Homo sapiens: one gene and its partners. Changing the gene in region 7 together with the main gene of any one other region gives a genetic interaction. Each region holds a gene or a part of one and is shown on either strand. Other genes may lie near its edges.

The links.
Region 1: changes in PTAR1 (region 7) and CTDSPL2 are lethal when combined (synthetic lethality), as found in Homo sapiens cells (one study listed by BioGRID).
Region 2: changes in PTAR1 (region 7) and EXOC2 are lethal when combined (synthetic lethality), as found in Homo sapiens cells (one study listed by BioGRID).
Region 3: changes in PTAR1 (region 7) and VPS41 are lethal when combined (synthetic lethality), as found in Homo sapiens cells (one study listed by BioGRID).
Region 4: changes in PTAR1 (region 7) and UNC50 are lethal when combined (synthetic lethality), as found in Homo sapiens cells (one study listed by BioGRID).
Region 5: changes in PTAR1 (region 7) and RNF145 are lethal when combined (synthetic lethality), as found in Homo sapiens cells (one study listed by BioGRID).
Region 6: changes in PTAR1 (region 7) and GTF2I are lethal when combined (synthetic lethality), as found in Homo sapiens cells (one study listed by BioGRID).

Annotation. Positions count from the first base shown.
Region 1 is NC_000015.10:44,486,629-44,490,128, reverse strand, and holds part of CTDSPL2 (CTD small phosphatase-like protein 2), read right to left. Parts: coding exon 3,429-3,500; intron 1-3,428. UniProt on the Homo sapiens protein: Probable phosphatase.
Region 2 is NC_000006.12:490,640-494,139, forward strand, and holds part of EXOC2 (exocyst complex component 2), read right to left. Parts: intron 548-3,500; coding exon 486-547; intron 1-485. UniProt on the Homo sapiens protein: Component of the exocyst complex involved in the docking of exocytic vesicles with fusion sites on the plasma membrane.
Region 3 is NC_000007.14:38,738,192-38,741,691, reverse strand, and holds part of VPS41 (vacuolar protein sorting-associated protein 41 homolog), read left to right. Parts: intron 1-3,500. UniProt on the Homo sapiens protein: Plays a role in vesicle-mediated protein trafficking to lysosomal compartments including the endocytic membrane transport and autophagic pathways. Acts as a component of the HOPS endosomal tethering complex.
Region 4 is NC_000002.12:98,615,089-98,618,588, reverse strand, and holds the end of UNC50 (protein unc-50 homolog), read right to left. Parts: intron 2,383-3,500; coding exon 2,243-2,382; intron 2,158-2,242; coding exon 2,056-2,157; intron 444-2,055; coding exon of another isoform or gene 422-443; coding exon 285-421; 3' UTR 74-284; downstream 1-73. UniProt on the Homo sapiens protein: Involved in the cell surface expression of neuronal nicotinic receptors. Binds RNA.
Region 5 is NC_000005.10:159,171,554-159,175,053, forward strand, and holds part of RNF145 (RING finger protein 145), read right to left. Parts: intron 2,606-3,500; coding exon 2,430-2,605; intron 1-2,429. UniProt on the Homo sapiens protein: E3 ubiquitin ligase that catalyzes the direct transfer of ubiquitin from E2 ubiquitin-conjugating enzyme to a specific substrate.
Region 6 is NC_000007.14:74,664,218-74,667,717, forward strand, and holds part of GTF2I (general transcription factor II-I), read left to right. Parts: intron 1-3,500. UniProt on the Homo sapiens protein: Interacts with the basal transcription machinery by coordinating the formation of a multiprotein complex at the C-FOS promoter, and linking specific signal responsive activator complexes.
Region 7 is NC_000009.12:69,725,512-69,729,011, forward strand, and holds part of PTAR1 (protein prenyltransferase alpha subunit repeat-containing protein 1), read right to left. Parts: intron 1-3,500.

The DNA of each region.
Region 1 (3,500 bases), on a different chromosome or scaffold from region 7:
CCCAGGTCTTTCCATTTCCTTCTGGAATCTTCCAAATGTCATTTTAAACAAAAATAACAAAAAAAATTAACCTCCAATATTCTCAACTTCCTTACAGAACATTCCTTCTCCCTTGTTGCTTTAAGTTTAACCTCTTTCCTAAAAGGTTTTTCTGATACCCTTCCCTCAATGCTCTTTATTCTCCCATACCAATATACTAATTGAATCAGAATTCATTTATCTCCATTGCTACTATCCAATCGCTGGTTTTCCACTAATGTGCAAAAAAAGTCTGCTCTTTTGAGACTGATGTCACATGGCTATATAATTCTTCACTTATCCTCACTGCTGGCACCTACCATCTACTGCCAGAATCCTCTCAATCGCAAAGAAGTTTAATACATAGCTACTAGTTTACTGCTCTATTTAACACAGTATTTTTTCTAGTTGTTATTACAGATGATGTCAATGACTCATCCAATGACTAATCCTCAAAGTTCTTGCCCTCTTCAGCTCCAACCACCTTCACTCATACTGCTCTATATCAGTTACTACCATAGCTATAACCTGGACATTAACACTGAGAAACTTCACCTCTGAAGCCTAAAATTCTAATACTGTATTAACCACTTAGCACAACCTCCTAACCCTCAAATTATATATCTCATACTCCCATTATATGTGATCTTCAAACTTGATAAAGGCCAGTCTGTTTAATTCCAAACACGTCCCTCAAACACTTCTTCTCAACCCTCCTCATCTAGTTAGACTTCGTGGTGTATCACTTAAATACACTGTCAAACTGGCAGCCTCAGTATCCTTGATCCCTCATTCCTCCACTGTCATCCATCAAGAAATCCCTCTTGAATCAACGTAACCAACAGGCTTCTCAGACCCTAGTTGCAGGCTATGGAACAAAAAATACAATTACAAAGACTGGTCATAATCCAAATAAAACAGAGACACAGAGACAGGGAAAGGCAGGGGGAGGGGAGGAGGTAGGTGGGGGGGAGGGGGGAAGAGACAGATGTGGGAGTGGAGAGAGAGGTTGTGTGTGTATGGGGTGGGGAGAGAGAGACAGAGACACACACAAAGAAAATATCAATGTAAACCTTCACTATTCTTCCCAAGTCCCTTCCACTAGAACTATCATTAATGACACCATCTCTTCCTTCCAAGAAAACTCTATCAAACTTCAACTCCTTCTTCCCCAGACATCTATTTCTGTACACACCTTCAGAGATATACACACCTTCAGAGATTCTTTACTTCAGCATGAGGGGAAAATATTACTACTGGGGTTTGTTTTTTTTGTTTTGTTTTGTTTTTTGAGATGGAGTTTCACTCTTGTTGCCCAGGCTGGAGTGCAATGGTGCGATCTCAGCTCACTGCAACCTCGGCCTCCCAGGTTCAAGCAATTCTCCTGCCTCAGCCTCTTGAGTAGCTGGGATTACAGGTGGGTGTGCGCCACCATGCCCAGCTAAATTTTTTTGTATTTTTAGTAGAGATAGGTTTCTCCATGTTGGTCAGGCTGGTCTTGAACTCCTGACCTCAAGTGATCCGCCCATCTCGGCCTCCCAAAGTGCTCGGATTACAGGCGTTGAGCCACCGCGCCCAGCCTGAATATTTTTATTTAAATATTTCATGGCATCTCAAACTCAGCATGGTCCAAATTACACTCAATTATCTATCTCCCAGGAACTTTATTTTCCTTGAATCTTCTACTCTTGTGCCATCTTCATCTCTATTCTCTTTCACCTCCAATCTGCACCAAAAATGTGTCTATTTTCTATCCTCTGATCCTTCCTGTCTTCTCTAATACAATTAAGGTCTCATCAAGTCTCACACAAACGACTACAAGTCTACTAATTGTTCTACCTGCCTATGGCCTCTTCAGAATCTAGTCTACACACTACTGCCCAAGTGATCTTTATAAAACATAGATCTGATCGTATTATTCACCAGTTTAAAACCTTTCAGGCCGCTCTGCCTATGGAGGAGGAGCCATTCTTTATTCCTTTTTCTTTTTTTTTTTTTTTTGAGACGGAGTCTTGCTCTGTCACCCAGGCTGGAGTGCAGTGGCATGATCTCAGCTCACTGCAGCCTCCGCCTCCTGGGTTCAAGTGATTCTCCTGCCTTGAGTAGCTGGGATTACAGGCACATGCCACCACATCCAGCTAACTTTTGTATTTTTCTTTAGTAGAGACATGGTTTCACCATGTTAGTCAGGCTGGTCTTGAACTCCTGACCTCATGATCCACCTGCCTCGGCCTCCTAAAGTGCTGTGATTACAGGTATAAGCCACGGTGCCCGGCCTATTCCTTTACTTTCTTAATAAAATTGCTTTCACCTTGGGGAAAAAAACAAAACAAAACAAACTTTCAATTATCCCATACTTGAATAAAGTTCATCATCTTACTATGTTAGCTCTATTATATGACTTCTTCATAGCTCTCCTACCTTATCCCTTCTCAAATGCAATGTTCCATCAATTACAAACTACAAACAGCTCTCAAATACACTATGCTGTTTTCTGCTGCAAGGCCTCTACGCATGCTGCTCCTTCTACCTGGAATGGCTTTTGCCACTTTTCCAGATTCGGCTTTTCTTTCAAGCCTTTTGTGAGCCACTACCCCTGCCACCCAGAAGACAGGACCATTCCATTCTTTTTATTTTTTTTTACGTGGACCCCCTACTTGGCTGTCCAAGCTTGAGTGCAGTGGTACAATCACAGCACACTGCAGCCTCAAACTCCTGGGTTCAAACTGCTGGATTGAAGCATTCCTCCCACCTCAGCCTCTGGAGTAGCTAGGACTACAGGCGTGCACTACCACGCCCAAATAATTTTTACATTTTTTTGTAGAGACAGGGTCTCACTATGTTGCCCAGGCTAGTCTCAAACTCCTGCCCTTGAGCAATTCTCCTGTCTTGGCTTCCCGAAGAGTTCAGATTACCGGCATCAGCCACCACACCCAGCTCCCAAGGAGCTGTATATTATTAATGAGGTGGAAAACATACACGAGACATTGACAAAATATGCTAATAAAATAAAAAAGATCTTTTTAAAAACTATGTATTTTTTTGCTGGGCACAGTTGCTCACATCTGTAATTCCAGCACTTTGGGAATCCGAGGTGGGCGGATCACTTGAAGGTCAAGAGTTTGAGACCAGCCTGGTCAACATGGTGAAACCCCGTCTCAACCAAAAATACAAAAAATATTAGCCGGGCATGGTGGCAGGTACCTACAGTCCCACCTACTTGTAAGGCTGAGGCAGGAGTATTGCTTGAACCTGGGAGGCAGAGGCTGCAGTGAGCGGGGAGATCGCGTCACTGCACTCCAGCCTGGGCAACAAAGAGAGACTTCGTCTCAAGAAAAAAAAAAAAAAAAAACCCAAACTATGCATTTTTTTAAAAAAAATCCAAATCACAGTTAACAGTTTATACTTACCATTTTTATTTGCTGGTGAAAAAAAGTTGAAGACAGGTGAAAATATGGTCCCCAACAAAGTAGTCCTTGGAG
Region 2 (3,500 bases), on a different chromosome or scaffold from region 7:
GTTGCCCACGTAGTAAACAATTTTGCACAGACAAACAGTAGTTCTGCTTCACTTCACCTACTGATATTTCAATGGTAGGAAATCCTGACTTTCATTCAAAACAGCTAAAAATTATCAAATTTCCACTACAAAATTTTGCAGAGAAACCACAAGGCTTCCTCTTATACTGATATTTACAGCACTTGAGCTGTCCTTCAGAGTCTGCTATGAACAGACTAAGACTCAGTTCTTATCCTCTTTTGCTTTAAGAAGTATGTCATACTCTGCTGTATTATAAGACTAAGATTTGTCAGTAGTAAATGAAAAAATTATATTAAACCCCTTTCATTTACATTGTGTTACAAAGTGGCCTTGACATAAACTTTATCACATCACAAATTCATGAGCATGTGCTCTGATCAGTCATCTTTACAGAGGACAGAATTGACTAGTAAGACAACCTTTATTTTTAATAGAGCACTCAACTAAAGAACACTGCCACTTACTTGCTTTCGGGTGTCAGGTAAACAGCCACAGTGTCCCTCAAAGCACAGATTTCAAGTCTCGCCTGAAAATGAGAAAAAGACAAAGTGACAACAGGAAAATTTATATTATCAAATATAAACAAGTACTAAGGTTAAGGGTCTCCAGCCTGCTCATCGTAGGATGGGGTTGGCGTAATACCACCATGGTGACCGCCAGTCATGAGTAGAGTTTCTAAAACAGTCCGAAGAAATTTGCTACCACAAAATGTTCGTTGACTGAAAATTAACTTGTAGTCAAGGATGACTGTGTGAGGGCAGGGAACTAGATATCTCACTATGAAAAGTACAAACTGTGTCATGATTTTCCAGCCATCTGTATTTACTCTCTAACCACTAATTTTTCTTTTAGTCTTGCAAGAGGAAAGACACTTTGAAACACTGCCCTGAAAGGGCCCGTGTCCCACAGAGGTAAGGATGTGGCTTGGCATGCTTCCTGACACCTATGCCCTTGCAGGCACACTGCCTTAATCTCAAAACCTAAACTCTGCTCTATGGATTCAATGCAATCTCTATTAAAATCACAGCTGCTTTTTTTTTCCTTAATGGAAACTGGCAAGCTGATTGTAAAATTCATAAGGAAATGCAAGGCACTCAGAACAGCCAAAACAATCTTAGAGTAACACATTTAGAGGCCTCAGACTTTCTGACTTCAGCCATACTCCAAAGCTAAAATATATTTAAATATTGTATACCCTCATATTTATGATCAACTGCTATTCAACAAGGGTGCCAAGACCACTCAGTGGGGGAAGAACAGTCTGTTCAACAAATGGTGCTAGGGCAACTGGATATCCACATGCAGAAGAATGAAGTTGAATCCTTTCCTTAACACAAAAATTAACACGGATCACAGATCTAAATGTAAGAAACTTATGAAACTATCAGAAGAAACCCAGTGTAAATCTTTGTGACCTTAGGCTAGGAAACCCTTCTTAGAAATCATGCCGAAAGTATAAACAACAAAACAGATAAAGTGGACTTCACCAAAATTAAAAATCCAGTGCTACAAAGACACCATCCAGAATGTGAAAGGACGACCCACAGAATGAGGTATCACTTCACACCCACTAGGATGGCTATAATCAATAAGAGACAATAACAAATAATGGTGAGGATGTAGAGACATTGGAACCCTCAAAAATTGCTGGTAGGAATGTCTGCCACTTTGGAGAACCGTCTGGCAGTTCCTCAGAAGATTAAGTATAGAGTAACCACATGACCTAGCAATTCCGCTCCTTGGTATGCACGCACGAGACATGAAAACACATGTCCACACAAGAACTTGTATAGGAGTGTTCACAGAAGCATTCTGCATATTAATCAAAGGTGGGAAAACCACAAATGCCCATCAGCTGATGAATGGATAAATAAAATGTGGCATATTTAAAGTGGAATATTATATGTAAAAAGAAGCGAGGCACTGGCATATGTCACAACATGGATGAACCCTGAAACATTACGCTACATGAAAGAAGCCAGTCACAAAGGGTCATATTTTCATGTTTCCATTTATACGAAATTTTCAGAGTAGACAAATCATAGAGATAGAAAGCCAATTGGTAGTTGTCTGTAGGGGGAAAGGGTGGTTTGGGAGGCAAATGATTAGACTTAATGGGTCAGGGGTTTCTTTTGGGATGAAATGTTCTAAAATTGATGATGGTGATGACTGGACAGCTCTTTGAATATACCAAAAATCATTGAATTGCATATTCTTTTTCTATTGTAGACAGATCGTATGCTATGTGAAATATTTCATAAAAGTTTTAAGAAAAAAGTTAAGCTTTCACTTCTACGCAAGCATGAATAAGTGTGATCTGACATACAAGTCAGTTTCCTGGGAGCTCCAGCAGACCCACTGACAATGATAACTTGATGTTCTGAAGTAGGTGCCCACAGTGAGTGGGACACACAGGAGAACATTTAAAAGAAATATCCCTTATTCTCAAGGAGTGGACAAAACATAAAACAATGACAAAAGACACAGCCAGCTCTTCACAGTTTATTAGAAATTCTGTAAGCCATCTAGATCAAAGCAGATATATATGACACAGGATATTCAGTGACCTTTTTCTGTTTGGAAGGCAATTGTTTGGTTTCATTTTTTCAGTCCCTTAGAAGCCTGAAAAACAGTATATAACTAGAAAGTTACAAATGCTAGAAAGTATGACAATTTCTGTCTCTATTTTGTTTATATTCTAGTATAGGTAAAAACAGACCTACCAGGAAAAAAGGTAGAACTTTCAGCTGACCATTTTAGGAGAAAGATTAAATTACTACAAAACCAATCTTCTGGTAGAAATTTTATTCAATCAAGGTGATAGAGTGTTTTAATTAACCTGTAAGTTATGCCAATTATAAAAACTGTGGTTAGCTATATAATACCTACAAAACTGTAATCCAGAAAACATCATGCTAAAAGATCTGCCAAAATCACCAAACTGTCACTCCCCTTTTCACCAAGCTCTCAGGACAGTTCTGGAGTTTGGCACCTAATTGCCTATCAAAGGTTAACCTGCTATCCCTCTTAGAGCTATGGCCTCAAGGAAGGAAGCTCTCAAAGTCATTCTCAGTGGGAGAGTGAAGCGGGAGTTTAGACTCACGACCTTTTTCAAAATACACATGTCTGTCCAGGCCCGAGGAGGTCTCAAAAACTGGAGGCTGGAACAGTTTGATGGCCAGTAGTTTCTGGACATGTGTACGTGAAAAAATTTTCCAGCTAATTCTGAGATCACTTTCCAACCTCTCCCTGCTGGTTTTGAGAGTGGTTTAGCCATCAGATAAATGGATTACGGAGGTAATGTGTAGAGAGGGCGGATGCCTGTTAAAATTCTAAGACTGCTAAGGCCCACAGTAGCGACTGCGACTGCCTGTTAATTCATCTGTAGTATTACACAGTTTATACTACTCATCTCCTGTGATGGAACTATTATAATAACCATGACCTTTCAACTTAAACGATAATATCAAAGATCTGAT
Region 3 (3,500 bases), on a different chromosome or scaffold from region 7:
ACATGGAATCGAGGCGAGTATGAAAGCAGTTATAGTGGCCATTAGATCGGGCCACCCCAACATTTTTAGGGAGAATAAGTATTGTATCCGTTTGAGGGAATTAACAAAAATGTTTTTCAGTAAGGTAATAATTTTTCTTGAAGCCATTCAGTAGTCTGTTGCCTGAAAGCTGTTAAAATATAGGATTTTATTTAACCTTTTGTCTGTTTTCTAGAATAGTGCAACTTTATTATCCTTGTTAAATCAGAATTTGTCATAAGAACAGTGGAACTCATTATTTTCATATAAATTATTATACTAATTACAAAGCATCTTAATCTTTTCCTTAAAAAGACTCTAGCAATTACTATTTTTCAGGATGCTGGTAACTTCTATAGAACTTGAATTAAAACATTTCCTTAAAAATTCGGACTGTTGTTCTTCCTCTAATTTACTTGAAAATGAGGTTTTATTAATAATGGATGAAATTACTTTCCTAGAAACAATTTTTGCAGGTAAAGCCAAAAGAAAAGGCTATTAGCTGAGGAGCATTATGATGTGAGATCCATTGGGCCAGGATTCACCATGCAGGTTGCAAAGTAGAGGTCTGCCTGCACTCAGGGTGACAGCCTTAGGTAAGAGGCAGGGTGGAAAGGAGAAGATATTGCAGGAACATTGGTGGCATCAAAAACAGATGTAAGAGATGAAAGGGATGGCAGAGCTGCAGGGACAAGAGGTTGTGCCAGAGAGTGTGATGTCATTAATGTTTCTGAAGCGGAGTCATGGTGTATACGTGTTCAAAAAGTGGGATGATGGTAAAGGTCATTTGTGTAGAATTAGTAGAGAAACTGAGGCCACAGCCTTTCTGAGTCATCCTAATGGACATGAAGGCCAGGAGGAAGAAACAAGGTGCTCTAAGCCAGGCTCCAGCTTCTCCACAGGGGACAGTAGTATTAACTGGACAACACGACTTTAAAAGTGAAGAAGTCTAAAGATGGGGGTGGGGGTGTGAGAGATCATGCAGCCTTCACTCCGGAGAGCTTTGTGGGAAATTGGGTTCATGGGAGAGAAATTGGTATTCGTTAAGCCAAAGAAGTAGATTACCTGTTCCGCAAAAAGCTTAACGATATATAGGCATATATTTCCAGTGGGATTTGGAGGTTTGCAGATGACCCAGGAGAAAGGTTATTGGAAGGAGAATGAGAAAGTCAAGAAGGAAATAAAAATATGGGAATGGGTTAATAGGCAAAGAGAGGTGAGGTGAGGAGCTGGCTTTTCATGCCACGCCCTAGGAATCCAGAAAGGTGACGTCCCTGCCTGGGGAAGTCACTAATTTTGAAGGTCAGATTGGGCTTTGGTGAAAGTGTTTTCAGTATCAGAACTTATAAGCCTCTGAGTGTGAGTGAGCTTGATAATGACCTTTACTTCATTGACCCTTACCAACCCCAGGCATGCCAGGATATGCTCTAGGTTTCAAATCCACATTTGATGAGAAGTCATTTAGGTGTCTCTGAACAACCCTCCCCCAAGGGAAGTAGTAAATAATTATCCCTCTGCCTTTCAGCTGTAGTGCAAGAAGCTTGCACTAGGTTAAAAGTTGTGCCTTTCTTTTTCGCCAGCCTCCGCAATGACTGCAAGACCACATAGTGCATCCCTATGACTAGGTCATTCTTCCAGAGAACCAAGCTCATGGGCACCACTGTGATCTCAGTGTTCATTCATTTTTAATAAATAAATTTGCATCATTCTGAGTCAGCTGGTAATAAAAATGAAATTATTATTAGATGCAAAATGAATGCCTAACATAAAAATATCTACTAAAGAAGCTACTAAATATTTTTTCTTAATTAGAGCTTTTCCTTAAGATATGTAAGTATGTAGTTCGGTAATGTGTTAAGGAGGTTCAGAATTATTTAGCTAGTGGGTCCAAAAAGCTGTGGTTGCCTGTGAATCCCCCAACCAAGGGGTGGCTTCTCAGAGGGTGAGGGAGAGATGAACAGGGAAGGCAGCAGAGCCTGTGGAAGCTGCTGCATCTGGAGTCCCCACTGGAGCTCAGGCATCTTGTTGGAGAATGCAGTCAGAAAATGCTCTCCGGGGGCAGGTGGTTCAAAGAATTCCAGGCATTATTTTTCCCTCACAGATAAAGAGTTTAAAATATTTTTCTGCTCTTTTTACATAATGTATTAATGACCGCTTAATGTGTTTCCTTTCTCTAGGCAACCTATTAGGGTTCACTGTAAAAATAAATCTATCCAGAGAGCATTTTGCAATTTCCAGAAGGATTTCACTTGCATGTTTTTATTTTATTCTTTTTTTATTTTGTATTTTATAAAACTATGTTGTTTTTCACATACTCTCACCTAGCAAAGTAAAAAATTAGCAACCCTATTCAATCTGAAAATTTGGGAGAAATTTTGCATGTTCATCAATTTCCAGGAATCTGGAAGTGACTGTGTGTGTGATGGGGCTGGGTGGGACAGTAACCCCAGGGGCTATCAAGAACCATTCAGTAATGTAGGGATCTATGGTCAGATGTTGGGGAAATGTTCTCACAGGGCTTCTCAGCACCTTTTCTTGCTGGTATGCATTGGGAATCTCTAAAGGGAGATTGACAATAGAGTATACAGCATTTAAAACTTGGGCACTGCTTTGGGAGATCATTCATTAGCCAGTTGTTAATTGGAAAAGCGGGTTAGAGAATGTTGTGGGAAAAACTTGAAATGAGTAACTCTTCTGCTTTTAGTTTCACGTTTTCTAAAATGTAACAGCTCTCTTCAACCGAAGGTTAGCATCATTAGGTTTGTTAGATGCCTATGACATGACATAGTTTAAGGAAGTAGTATAATCAACTACATCAGCAGTGTTTAATTTCTTTAACTTTCTATGTTTTTATACCCGGCTACCTTGTTAGTGTAATCACTGCACAAATTTTAAAAGCTTCATGAAGTCAGTAAGATGCAAGTGGCATGTATTGCACTTCATAAGCTTTAAATGTTCCTAGGCCTGATTTCAAGGACAAATAGCACTTATTTTGATATAACTTCCAAAACAATATGGTATCAATTATACTTCAGTTTTTATGTAAACTGACCAGTTTCCAGTTTATGCTACAAATTTCTAATGTTTTTACATTTTCTATTTTTAAAACATTATAAATTTAGCATGTAGTTGTTGAGCGTTTATGTCCATTTTTGTAGTTGGAGGCTTTTTTCCCTTGAGAATTTCAGCATCTTTGTTCTTAAAGACTTCTTTTGACGGTTTTATTTGACAAACATTTAATCTTCACAACACTTCTGTAGGAAATATCATCTTTGTTTTACAGATGAGAAGGTTGTCTCTCAGAAAAGTTAAGTGATTTGCCAGTCTGGGAAGGTGATGAACTGGGTTTGAACACAGATCACAGATCCTCTGACTAAATCTCATGCCTTTTTTAAATCAGTGACTACATTACCTTTTACAGCCACAAGTAATCTCTAAAAAATCTGCTAATTAGAGTGGGGTCTTAGTTTTTTTCATTATGG
Region 4 (3,500 bases), on a different chromosome or scaffold from region 7:
TATGTTTTCCCCATGCCATTAGCATTTTACATGTAGCTCTTACATTTGCAAATATTAGAGTGAACACACATGCTTTAGTTTAAAAAATATTTATTATAGAAATGTACATTTAATTAGTTTTAAGGAATGTACCTGACCACAGTGTTAATATATATTTCTTCAAATTTGCAAACTTTACACCTTTAAGATATCTACAAAGATGATAGTTTATTTACAAGTTTTACAAGAAATGATCACTTCACAATACTGTTGACACAGTTACGATTGAATCTTCTTCTCACTTTTTATTTCACTCTGTACTTATAGAAAGAACAGAGAGTATGGGTGAAGTTCCATCCCAGTGCCAGGGAAAGCCCGTAGAGCAGAATCAGAGGTGCAAATGGATACAGAAGAATTACTGTATTTTTCAAAAATGGCAATGCTGGAAAAGAAAGGAATCCAAACTGATTTAAAAAAAAAAAAAAATAAATGACTAATAAATGAACATTTTGAAAGACAGCTTACTTCAACATGTGGGGTGGAAGGGAATGCATATTTTGAATCAGTAAGATGATGCTATTTATGCCCAGAACTAGACTACTCTTCCCAACCCCTCTGTGCTGTTTCCTCCTTGTCTAGGGCTGGGAAGAAACCTAGGAGAGGAATTATTTCAGCACAGAGGCTGAGTGGGACATCATACACTGGACCAAGAGAGGTTAACAATGAGGGAGAAATGTCACAAATATTCATGAAAACAGTGGTGAATTTAAACTTGTGACTGCCTCAGAAACCTCTAGGAGTCCAACTTAAAGTACAGAGATGGATGGCGTTATAGGAAAACATCTTTTAGCTATTTGAGATTTTCCAGTGTAAAGCATTATACCCCCACTTTAAGAGGGTGTGAGCTCAACTAGTAGCCCAGGCTTCAGAAAAGAACTGAAACTCTTAAATATAAAAGTCTGGCTCCAAATATTGATGTTTCTTGCTCACTGCTTAGTTAGCGGGACCCTACCCCATGCATCCCGACCTAAGTATTTCTCATATAGGAAGTTCTTAAACAAACTGAGCTGTACTCCAACTATTCTAAGTGGTATAGGTCGTTACCAGGAGTGTTCAAATAACCACTTAGAGAAACCACAGTGCTGCAGTGTTCTCATCACAAAACACTTTCAAAATTCATTAGAAATGACACAAACATCTCCCCTGGACTAGAGAAAGCACTCCCCAAACAAGGCATTACAATGAAGGGGTTAAGTGTTCCCTGACAAACCAGCCAAGGGGGGAGAGAACCGGGGTGGGAATAACTCCGGAGCCAGGCATAGTCAGAGCCATCTGTATTTACAGTTAGGCCCTAATCATCTACAGTAACAGGAAAGGAAGGGGTAAGAAACGTACAGCGCAGTCTCTAGATTTTATTTGGCTTTATTTAATGGGATCATTTCTTAACATAAATGAAAAATAATATATGTTCCTCATTCATATTAAGAAAAATGAACTGACAACAGGATTTAACAGTAAATCTGCAAACATGTCCTGAGGACAATAAATGTTGGGCCCGATCTTCTGTGATTGTCTACAGAACCATACGGTAATCATGAAAACTAAGAATGGGGCAAAAAGTTATGATTCAAAAGGCTTTAGAGAACTTCAGTTCATAGACCTATGTAACAAGATGCTGGGCCCCACCTTTCTTCGCTCTACCCTCCTGCTGGTAACCCACAACCTGAAAGCATGGGAGAAGAGGAGTGAATGGTCTTGGATTCCTGCAAGTCATCTGGAGATAACCAGTATGGTTTAACATGTTTCCTTGAAAGTATAAAATCTGTTATATACCAGCTAGGCCATTTTCTAGCTGCATGACCATGGGTAAGTTGCTTAATCTCTCTGCCTCAGTTTCCTCATTTGAAAACAGAAACAAACCTGTGTAATTGTCATGAAGATTAAATGAGATAATGCACATAAAATACTTAGGATAGTGCCTGTAAGTGTTCCATAAAAGCAGCTGTTTGTACTACTGTTACAACTTTCCCCCTCTTGCTATGTTCTCAACCAAAAACATTTAAAAAAATTACTTACCACTGTATCCCAGGAAAGTTACATAGATATAATAGCCAACTGCAACCAACCATAAGGTATTTCCAACTAAATATCCAATAAATGTGTCTGTCAGGATAACATCTGCCAGAAGAGACGCAGACCATGAGTCCCTTTACCAATGCATGCAATGAAGACTTGGATAATACTCTAATTAACTGCTACTTACGGTTGATGAAAAAAAGCTGGATAAAATGCAAAATGACCAGGAGTGGATAAAAAGCATTGAGATGCACATCAAAAGCATAGCCCCATTCCACATCATAGTCTCTGCTCTGTCGTTTCACTAAATACTTGTTAGAGATGAACCTAAGAGCAAAATTAAAATTTCTTTCATAATAAAATGAATTCTGTAAATGTTTACTGACGACTTTCTATGCGGCAGACATTCTAAATTCTGGAGATATACCAGTAAACAAAACAGACAAAAATCCCTGCCTTCCATCTAGGAAGGAAGGCTGACAATGATACACCTATGTCAGATGGTATTATGGAAAGAGAGAAAGCAGCAGAGAAATGTGGAGAATACAAACTTGAGATGCAATTGTACATATGAGGGTCATAAAGTAACATTTGGGTAAAGACCCAAGGATAGTGATGGTGCCTGGCAGGCCTGAGGAATGGTGAAAAGACCAGTGTCTGAAAGAAAAGGAGCAAGAAATGAAGCCAGAAAAGAAACAGGGTTGGGCCCAACATCAAGTCACACAGGCTCCATGTCTTACGAAGCCTGTGGCCGTTTTACAATCTTTGGCTTTTATTCCTGGTGACGTGAGAAGCCACTGTGGAGTTCTGAGAAAAGTATTTGACTTAAATGCCTTGACAGAGCCTCCCTGGTGGCGGATCTGAGAACAGACTCCAGAGACAAGACTGGCAGCAGAGACCAGTTAGAAGGCTACTGCAAGGAAGAGATGAGCAGAGGGGCTGGTGGCAGTGGAGGTGCTAAGATGTGGCACACACGATACTCTGAAGGTAGAGCTCCTGACATTATTGGATTGGAGTATGAGAAAAAAATACTCAAGGATGACTGAGAGATTTCTGCCTTGAACAAATGGAAGATGGAGCTGCCTTTAATTGAGGTGGGGCTGGCTGTGGGAAGAGTGGTTTTGAGGTGGGAAGGAGTGTGCGGAAGTTTGAATTTGGACCTGTTATGTTGAAGATGCCAACTAGTATGGAGTAAGAAGTTGTATACAATGTCTAGAGTTTAGAAGACAAGTCCAAACTGGAAATATAAACTCATCAGTGTGTAGATGATATTAATATTTAAAGCCACGGGCCTGAATGATGTCACCAAAAAAATGAATGTGGATAATGAACAGGCCCAAGGCCCAAGACCTGGGTCAACCCCCTATTAAAAGGAGGATGAAATAGTAAGAAGCAGTTAGGAAGAGTGACGCATCCAGCCATAAGAACAATTATTCAAGTGTATG
Region 5 (3,500 bases), on a different chromosome or scaffold from region 7:
GGAAAATTTATAAAGTTTTTCTTTGCTCTCTCTTCATTCAGTAACTCATTTTTATTAAATCTTAATTTCTATTTTCTGGCTGCAAAAAAAACCTTTTTTTTGATTTGCAGTTTGATCTGGTGTGCTTTATTGTTGGTTGGTGTGTTTGTTTAGTCAGGGTATTCTGGTAAGCTCCCAATCTCTTTTTCTAAATAAGTTGTTTTTTTGGCAAAGAAACATAAACATTACCAGGCACACAAAAGCATGGATAAGAACAGAGAATAACTCTTACAGAGATATAAATTAACAAAAGAACCAATATGAGAACTTCTCAAAGCAAATTACAACATTCTTATCATGAAAAAAGGCAATCTATCCTGGCGAGGCATAGAAAAAGAAAAGAAAAAAATTATGTTAGCAAGATATCTAAACTTCACAGAATATCCGAATATTATTTTCTTACTTTGTAAATAAGTCCAAATGCATTCATGGCTTAGTAAATTGTTAAGCCTACTGCACTATGCTATACCTCATCTTACTGTGCTTTGCAGCGGGTAACAATCTGGTTTAAAGCACCACCAATTCAGTCTCACGCTGAGTTTATTATCCTAACCACAGAACTGTCTCTCTTTCTCTCTATATGCAGTTACTTTTTGGGTCATTTTAAAAGTCTTCAGGCCGGGCGTGGTGGTTCACACCTGTAATCCCAGGACTTTGAGAGGCTGAGGTGGGTGGATCACCTGAGGTCAGGAGTTCAAGATGAGCCTGGCCAACATGGTCTCTACTAATAATATAAAAATTAGCCAGGTGTGGTGGCGCATGCCTGTAATCCCAACTACTTGGGAGGCTGAGGCAGGAGAATTGCTGGAACCTGGGAGGCGGAGGTTGCAGTGAGCCGAGATTGTGCCACTGTACTCCAGCTGGGCGACGGAGCCAGATTCCGTCTCAAAAAAAAAAAAGTCTGCATAAAACCTCCATAATACTTATATCAAAAACAAATAGCAGTCAAATTTACTTAATACTAGATTAATCGTTAAAATGTATTTGAATTTGACATCAACTTACTGCATGTTTATAGAAGCTACTTATAATTGTTATTCATTTTTAGAAAGTTCAAAATCTGATTCAGTACCAGTATAAGTTTATCCCACTTATTTCTTAAAACAGGTTTTTGTCCTGTATATTTTTAATATTTACATTTGTGTTAATGCTTTCCTAGTAACATGCTCCTTAAGGATAGTAAACTTGTCTTAAATTTCTCATAGCCTACACCACTTAGTACACAGTCTTCCATCATATTGGATGGCTGAGAAACAATGACTATTAACTAGAACTTAAAACTGTTATCTACCTATATTTACTTTATAGGAGGACAGATTTTCATCCCTACTTTTTAAAGTGACAATGAGCAAGGGAACCAAGATGTATATTCATGTACTAGATTCTGAGAATGTGAGATTCAAACTCAAGAGTGGAAAAAATAACAAATGTGGATCTAGCAGAAGCTCACAATAAAATGGGAAAATGACTTAAATGACATGAGATTTAAAAAGACAAAACAAAACAAAAACCCCTAAATATTAAAAACCGAGTCTTAGAATTATTTTGGGTTAGTCCAAGCTTGACTAACCTGCAGCCCAGGACAGCTTTGAATGCAGCCCAACAAAAATTTGTAAACTTTCTTACAACACTATGAGATTTTTTTTTTGCAAGTTTTTTTTTAAAGCTCATCAGCTATCGTTAGTGCTAGTGTATTTTATGTATAGCCCAAGACAATTCTTCTTCCAATGTGGCCCAGGAAAGCCGAAAGATTGAACACCCCTGGGTTAGACAGTAAAGTACTATTATCTACCCATTTCACCAATTACCGGACTCTTTCTCGATACTGAAGTCAACAGGGACAAAGGCAAAGTATAGAGAGTAAGTCACAGGCTTCGAACTCAGGTGGGTCTGAGTGCCAGTTCTGCTTCTTTTGGCAGTGTTACCTGGGGCAAGTTATTCCTGGTACAGTTTCTTCAGCTATAAAATGGTAATTATAATAAAGGCACCTATCTCTTAGGGTCGTTGTAAAGATTAATGTGAGGCAAAGTGTTTAATGGTATGGTACATTTTAAATACTCAATAAATGTTATTTTTATAATATACTTTTTTCTGATTGACCCAATAATTTTAACTTGAAATTGAAAAAATACTTTTACGATTTGCTATGTACCTTTCCACAAATCATTTGCTACACTCTGGTCCATAGTGCAGCCAAATAAACCACATTATTATGTTAGCACCTCCCTGCATTGCCAAACCTAGGTATCCAGTGAATGAAAATCCTATCTTAACAAAATACGAAGTTGTGTAACATGAACGATAAAAGTAATCTGCAAAACTTACTATTCCTAGATCAAAGTTTTCTCTTTCTAAGGTTATATATAGTATCATAGGCTCTTATTAATTACCTTGTCAGAAAAAGGAAAAGAAGCCTCTCACGTGATGCAGGCTGATCTCGAGTACTGAAATAGGAGTAAATCTGAAGAGCAAATAAGACGAGCCAGAAAACCATGAAAAGAACAGGGACTACCAGTTGATTCCACAGGGACATTCCCAAGGCGAGAAGGCCATATACCTCCACTACCTAAATAAAAACGTAAGATAGGAAAACTTCTTGCATCACCATCAATAAACACTTTAAACACTTGAGTCAAATCAGAAGTAAAATATTAAATAGCTTTTCTTTGATTGCAAGACTGTTTCAGCTAAATTCCTTTAAAGTTAGCCTATATAGTTAATAAATAGCATGTTTTTTAAAACTTACTAATTTTGCATTATTATTAACACTTGACACACACTTATCTAATAGCACAGTAAACTGCCCTAATAGTTCAGGGATAAGGTCAAAATAAGGTCATATTCAGTACAAAATAACCTTAAAAGGTAGTTTGAGGAGACTTGGTAAACACTCATGTCTAATCAAAATAATCAGGACTAGCATGAATTGATACAACACTGCTTGAGGCACTAGGAAAAAAAATGCAAAAGTAAAAACTTTCAGGGTTTATTCAGAAATGTCACAAATGAGAAACAGTTCAATGGAAGAAGAGTACTTAATCACTGGAAAAAAATTTTGCAGAGCAAAGATAGTTAGCAAGTCTTTTTCTCCCATACACATCAATTCCCCTTCCTCCTACTGTGTTTTTATCAAGCTATGTTTTTCCATTTGGTTTGCCAAGTGTAAGTAACACTAGGAAAAGGATATATCTTAAAAAAAAAAAAGGCTTAATAATCTGCAACTCACTAAATTAGTTTTCCAGTTTATAAAACACTCTTCTTATGAAACTGATTAGGAAAAATCAATCACAGAATCTGATTCAATCTAAGAGCATAGGTGTAACCAAGTTTCTAGAGTTACTATGTCAGGGACCAGACCCTGGTGACACAGCAGGAATTCTGCTGGACAGCTTACAAAACCAGTATCTAGCAGTCAGCTGGTCTTGCTGGAATCTCTCAATGTGATACCAGAATGTTTCAAT
Region 6 (3,500 bases), on a different chromosome or scaffold from region 7:
TACTGTTGTCCTTTTGTTCTGGAACTCTCCCTGCTGTCTTCCTGTTTGTTTTCTCCTCTGTAAAATTCTTGTTTTGGTATTCCATGCCTGTTTCTGGCAGTACTCATTTGCTTTTTACCACTTTGGCCTACTGAGAAAGTAAGAGAAAGTTCAGTATAGCCAGGAACTGTCAGAGTTGTTGGAGGATTGACTCATTCTCCTTTGGTTGTAACTTGTTTCTGTTTTTGTTTTTTTGAGAAGGAGTCTCCCTCTGTCGCACAGGCTAAAGTGCAATGGCGCGATCTCGGCTCACTGCAACTCTCGCCTCCCAGGTTCAAGCGATTCTCCTGCCTCAGTCTCCTGAGTAGCTGGGATTACAGGTGTGTGCCACCATGCCCGGCTAATTTTTGTATTTTTAGTAGATACAGGTTTCACCATGTTGGCCAGGCTGGTCTCAAACTGCTGACCTCAAATGATCCACCTGCCTCAGCCTCCCAAAGTGCTGGGATTACAGGCATGAGCCACCACGCCTGGCCAACACTCTATGTAGGATTTTTAAAGAACTAGTTACTTAAAAAATATATCATGAGAGGGAAGACAAATTTATAAATTGAGAGAGGGTTTATAGCTTATGGCTAGCGACACAAGTTTGAAGTCTGACTGCCTGGATTCCAGTCCTGGCCCTTGCCGTTTCCTGCCTGTGCGACCTTGGGCATTTCACTTCATCTTTGTATGTTTCCCTATTTTTTGTTTTTTTTTTTTGAGACAGAGTTTTGCTCTTGTTGCCCAGGCTGGAGTGTAGTGGCGCGCCTGGCTCACCGCAATCTCCGCCTACTGGGTTCAAGCGATTTTCCTGCCTCAGCCTCCTGAGTAGCTGGGATTACAGGTATGTGCCACCACCACGCCTGGCTAATTTTGTATTTTTAGTAGAGACGGGGTTTCTCCATTTTGGTCAGGCTGGTCTCGAACTCCTGACCTCAGGTGATCCACCCGCCTCGGCCTCCCAAAGTGCTGGGATTACAGGTGTGAGCCAACAGTGCCCGGCCTATTTTTTATTTTTATTTTTATTTTTTGAGACAGTGTCTTGCTCTGTTACCCAGGCTGGAATGCAGTGGCATGATCTCAGCTCACTACAACCCCTGCCTCTCGGGTTCGAGTGATTCTTGTGCCTCAGCCTCCCGAGTAGCTGGAATTATAGGCATGCGCCACCACACCTGGCTAATTTTTGTATTTTTAGCAGAGACAGGGTTTCACCATGTTGGCCAGGCTGGTCTCCAACTCTTGACCTCAGATGGTCCGCCCACCTCAGCCTCTCAAAGGCTGGGATTACAGGCCTGAGCCACCACGCCTGGCCCCTATTTTTAAAAATGGAGTTGATAATAGAACATGTTTCGCTTCTAAGAGCTGTTGCAAGGATAGAGTTTAAGTGCTTAGGTTGCTGTCTGGCATGTAGTAGACACTCAAGAAATATTAGTCATAAAAGTACTATTATAAAGACTTTTGGGAAATTGAGGAAGCGAAAATTTTACTAGTAATATCGACTATGACGTTAATCTCCAAGAACTCTGGAGAATATGAATTGCAAGGGCAAGGACTTATTCCTCTGTGGGATTTTCCCCTGTGACTGTTACATTGTTTTTATGTTTTGTTTTGTTGAGATGGAGTCTCCCTCTGTCACCCAGGCTGGAGTGCAGTGGCGGGATCCCAGCTCATTGCAACCTTCACCTCTGCCTCCCGGGTTCAAGTGATTCTCCTGTCTTAGCTTCCCAAGTAGCTGGGACTACAGGCGTGCGCCACCATGCCCAGCTAATTTTTGTATTTTTTAGTAGAGAAGGGGTTTTACTATATGTTGGCCAGGCTGGTCTGGAACCCCTGACCTCAGGTGATCTGCCCATCTCAGCCTCCCAAAGTGCTGGGATTACAGACGTGATCCACCGCGCCTGGCCAGAGCTTGACAGTTGGATTGATGAAACCTGAGAATGTATGCTTTATATGTTGTTCATTTTAATTTGTTATATCTAGAAATTTAGCTCTTACTGTTGACTATAACACATACATGACGTGAGTAGAATTTTATCTAGATTGAGTTTTCAGACCGTAATTGGTTTCAAGAAAATAAATAAGGTATTGGAAGTGAACTAAAATTAGTAACTGGCTTTGGCATTAGACTTTAATGCACTTAAATTACATGATCTCATCTGTGAGATAATTTGACAGAGGAGGACGATGGCATGTATTATGTCCATATGAGGAAAGGGCAGAGAAATAGACCCTGCAAGATTCATTAGTGTTACTCCTTCCTCCTGTTCGTTTTCTTTCTTCGTTTTCCCCCCCGGTAAGCATTAAAAAAAATTTTTTTTGGCTGGGTGTGGTGGCTCACTCCTGTACTCCCAGCACTTTGGGAGGCCATGACTCACTTGAGGTCAGGAGTTTGAGACCAGCCTGGCCAACATGGTGAAACCCCGTCTCTACTAAAAATACAAAAAATTGGCCGGGCACGGTGGCTCACACCTGTAATCCCAGCACTTTGGGAGTCCAAGGCGGGTGGATCACGAGGTCAGGAGATCGAGACCATCATGGCTAACATGGTGAAACCCTGTCTCTACTAAAAATACAAAAAAAAAAAAAAAAAAATTAGCCAGGCGTGATGGCGGGTGCCTGTAGTCCCAGCTACTCAGGAGGCTGAGGCAGGAGAATGGTGTGAAACCGGCAGGCGGAGCTTGCAGTGAGCTGAGATCGCACCACTGCACTCCAGCCTGGGTGACAGTGTGACACTCTGTCTCAAAAAACAAAAACAAATTAGCTAGGCGTGGTGGTGCGCACCTGTAATCCCAGACACTCGGGAGGCTGAGGCAGGAGAATCACTTGAACCCTGGAGGCGGAGGTTGCAGTGAGCCAAGATCACGCCATTCCACTCCAGCCTGGGCCATAGAACAAGACTATGTCTCAAGGAAAACAAACAAACAAAAAAACACATCTCTACTGAAAATACAGAAGTTAGCTGGGAGTGGTGACAGGTGCCTGTAATGCCAGCTGCTTGAGTGGCTGAGGCATGAGAATCACTTGAACCCGGGAGGTGGAGGTTACAGTGTACCGAGATCTTGCCACTGCTCTCCAGCCTAGGCGACAGAGCAAGACACCATCTCAAAAAAAAGAAAATCCTGTAAGATGAATTTGTTCCTTTATGAAGAATAAATTTGTGTCTGCCATTTACACCGTGAATGCCTTTCTTTGGAGTGGTTCCTTGTAGTGTTTTTTGTTGTTGTCGTTGTTGTTAAATTGTGGTAACATATACTTAACACAAAAATTACCATTTTAACCTTTTTTTGTGGGGGGAGGGACGGGATGTCACTCTGTTGCCCAGGCTGGAGTGCAGTGGTATGCTTTTGGCTCACTGTAACCTTCGTGTCCTAGGGTCAAGACATCCTCCCACCTCAGTCTCCCGAGTAGCTGGGACTACAGGTGCATGCCACCACGTCTGGCTTGATTTTTTTATTTTTTGTGGAGATGGGGGTCTCACT
Region 7 (3,500 bases):
CCTGGGAGGTATAGGTTGCAGTGAGCCGAGATTGCTCCACTATACTCCAGCCTGGGCGACAAAACAAGACTCCATCTCAAAAAAGAAAAAAAATATATATATATATTTTCAACAAAATCAATTTCTTAAAAAAATTCTTAGGCTTTTAAAGAGAAAATCCACTATATTCTTTTCCCTAAGATATAAAGATGCATATTAGAAACTTTAACTGGAATTTCAGGGTATTCTCTTGTTAGAATAAAAAGATATAAAGATAGAGGCAATGATTTTTTTAAAAAAGACAGCAATTACTTTTAAGTGATCCAGTTAACTTTTAAGTGATCTAAAGATACTATATGAAGATATGGCTTTAATGTACAGTACTGATGGGATAAATGACCTTCGTATGATATACGTTAAATATCTTTCTTTTCCTACTTCCATATGAAAACATGAATAAGTGAATAAATAAACTACAAGAAAACTGCAAATGCAGGGCTATGAAAAAGAGGGATAACGTGCTAAAAATGAAAGACTACTAAAAATACATATGCCATAGGTCCTTTAAACTTTTAAAAATAGTATTTGGGTTTTCTTCTGATTATAAAAGTGATACAAAATGATCAATATAGAAAATTCCAATAATATGGGAAAATATAAAAAAGCAAACAAAAATCATCCATTATTTTGTTGGCCAGAGATCACTACTTGTAACATTCTGGCAGAAAACAAATCTTTCAGGTTTTTTTCTATGTATGCACATGCACAGAGTTTATTTTTAAGAAAAATCTGGGATATTCTTTTGTACCAATTTTATTCTACTTCAATTATAAATACATTCCTATGGCATTAAATATTATTCTATAATTTTTAACTCGTAAAATATTTCACCCTCAAGATTAACAGAATTTAACCATTCCTGTGTTTGTTTCTACTCTTGTATAAGTAACACTCATAAATAAATCTATGTACATATCTAATTATTTAGGAGAAATTTGTAGAAATATACTTGCTGGAACAAAGAAAAAAACTTTATAAAGTTCTTGATATATAAAGTGTCCTGCAGAAAGACTGTATAATTTATACTCCTATTGGAAGTACATGTTAATGCTTATTTCCTAAATTCATCATCAATACTTTAATCTTCACTAATAAGAATCACATTTCATTTTAATTTACATTTCCTTAATTATCATTAAGCCTAAATATCTTTTCTTGTGTGATTACTTTTCCTTTGCTTCTTCATTTATGAACTGCCTATTTTGCCTAATTCTCTACTTTTATGAATTATCTAATTTACTATTTGTGATAGTCATTATTTTTCTTACGAGTTTGTAAGAGGTCTTTACATATTAAAGATATTAAGTCTCTATTTGTCATATGTGTTATAAATATTATTTTCGATATATTACTGCAACTGATTTTTTAAATTCTTTTTTTTTTTTTAAAGATTGGGAGTCAAGTAAAATTCTTTTTTTTCTTTTCTCCCTCAGGTCTATTGAAGAAGTATAAATGACAAATTAAAATTGTGTATATACACACACACACACACACACACACACGTATACACACACATATATATATACGATGTACGACATATTGTTTTTATGTATACACTGTGAAATGATTACCACCATCAAGTGAATTAACTTATCTATCACCTCACATAAGTATTTTATTTTTTGTGGTAAGAACATTTAAGATAACGCTCTTAGAAATCTTTGGGTATACATTATTAACAGTAATTACCATGTTCTACCATTAGACCTCCAGAACTTACTCATCCTAACGGAAACTTTGTACCCTTTAACCAGCAACTCCCTGTTCCCCACCACAACCCCTACTCCTGCAATCACCATTCTACTATTTCCATGAGTTCAACTTGTTTAGAGTCCACCTACAAGTGACACCATGCAATATTTATCCTTCTGCGCTTGGCTTATTTCACTTAGCATAATGTGAGTCTCTTTTCTTCATATAGGTTTTTATTCCATTTAAAGTTCAATTTGGTATTTAAGATTAAAAAAAAAAAACCACCTAACTTTCTATTTTCTAAAAAGTCAATAAATTTTACCAGCATCACAAATTGAACAGGGAATCCTTTCTCTAATTATGTGAAATGCCATATTCATCATTAATGAAATATGTACATATTATGTATTGGAATTTGTTTCTGGACTTTATATTCTGTTCCATTACTGAGTCTATTTTTGAAATAGCATCACAATTTTAATTACTCTGTCTTATTAATAAACATGTAAGTATCTAATGGTAGAGTGTTCTTTATTGTTTTTCCCAACAATTCCTCAGCTATTCTTTAAGCTTTATTCTCTCTAATGTACTTTAGAATCATTTTTGAAGTGAAAAAATAAATCAGTGGTTTTTAATATATTCACAGAATTGTGCAACCATTGCTCTTATCTAATTTCTAATGTTTTCACCACCCCCACAAAACCCCATTCCTATTAGAAGTTACATCCCATTCCCTCCTCCCCAGCCTCTGGCACCCACTAACCTGCTTTGCCTATTCTGAACATGTTATATAAATGAAATCATACAATATGTGGCCTTGAATCTGACTGCTTTCAATCAGCATGTTTTCAAGGTTCATCCACGTTATAGCATGTATCAGTATTTCCTTCCTTTTTTATGGCCAATGTTCTATTGCATGGATACGCCACATTTTGTTTTCCATTCCTCAGGTGAGGTATTATTTTTTGGCTATTATAAATAATATGGCTATTAATGTTCTCATACAAGATTTGGTATGGAATGTGTTTTCACTTCTCTTGGGTATATACCTAGGAGCAGAATTACAGGGTCATATATGGTAATGCATGTTTTTCTCCAAGAATATGATATATATTAACTATAGTTTTATTAATATATAGTGATTCTATGTTTAATTATTTGAGGAAATGCCAAACTGCTTTCCACAGTGGCTGTACCATTTTACATTCTTACCAGCCATAAATAAGAGTTTCAGTTTCTCCACATCCTAACCAACATTTGTTATTGTCCGTATTTTGGTGTGAAGTGGTATCTCACTCCCTGTGGTTTTGCTTTGCATTTCCCTAATAGTAAAGATGGTGAATATCTTTTCATGTCCTTATTGGTGGTGTGGGTAGGTTTTTTGGAGAAATGACTATATGTGCTTTTTTTATGTGAAACTTGTAATTTGCCAGTAGTAATAAACTGCCTGACTGTGAATCTTTCCTGCCACACTACCCTCAAATATAAAAATATTTTAAAATTTACTTAAATGTTTATTTAAGCATGCAGACATCAGAGAGAACATAAAATAGAAAATTAGTGTCATAATTCCACCCTATACTACTTTTAATCAATCTTTATTCTTTAACCTTTTTCTGACTAGAAAACAAATATATGCTTTTATAAAAAATACAAGAAAAAAATCTATAGCATTGTTGTGTGTATGTATTACTATCTGTTCAGCATTTACCATGTGCCAAGCACTGTTTCAAACACTTTAAAGTATTTGCTGTCTCATTCAATGCTAA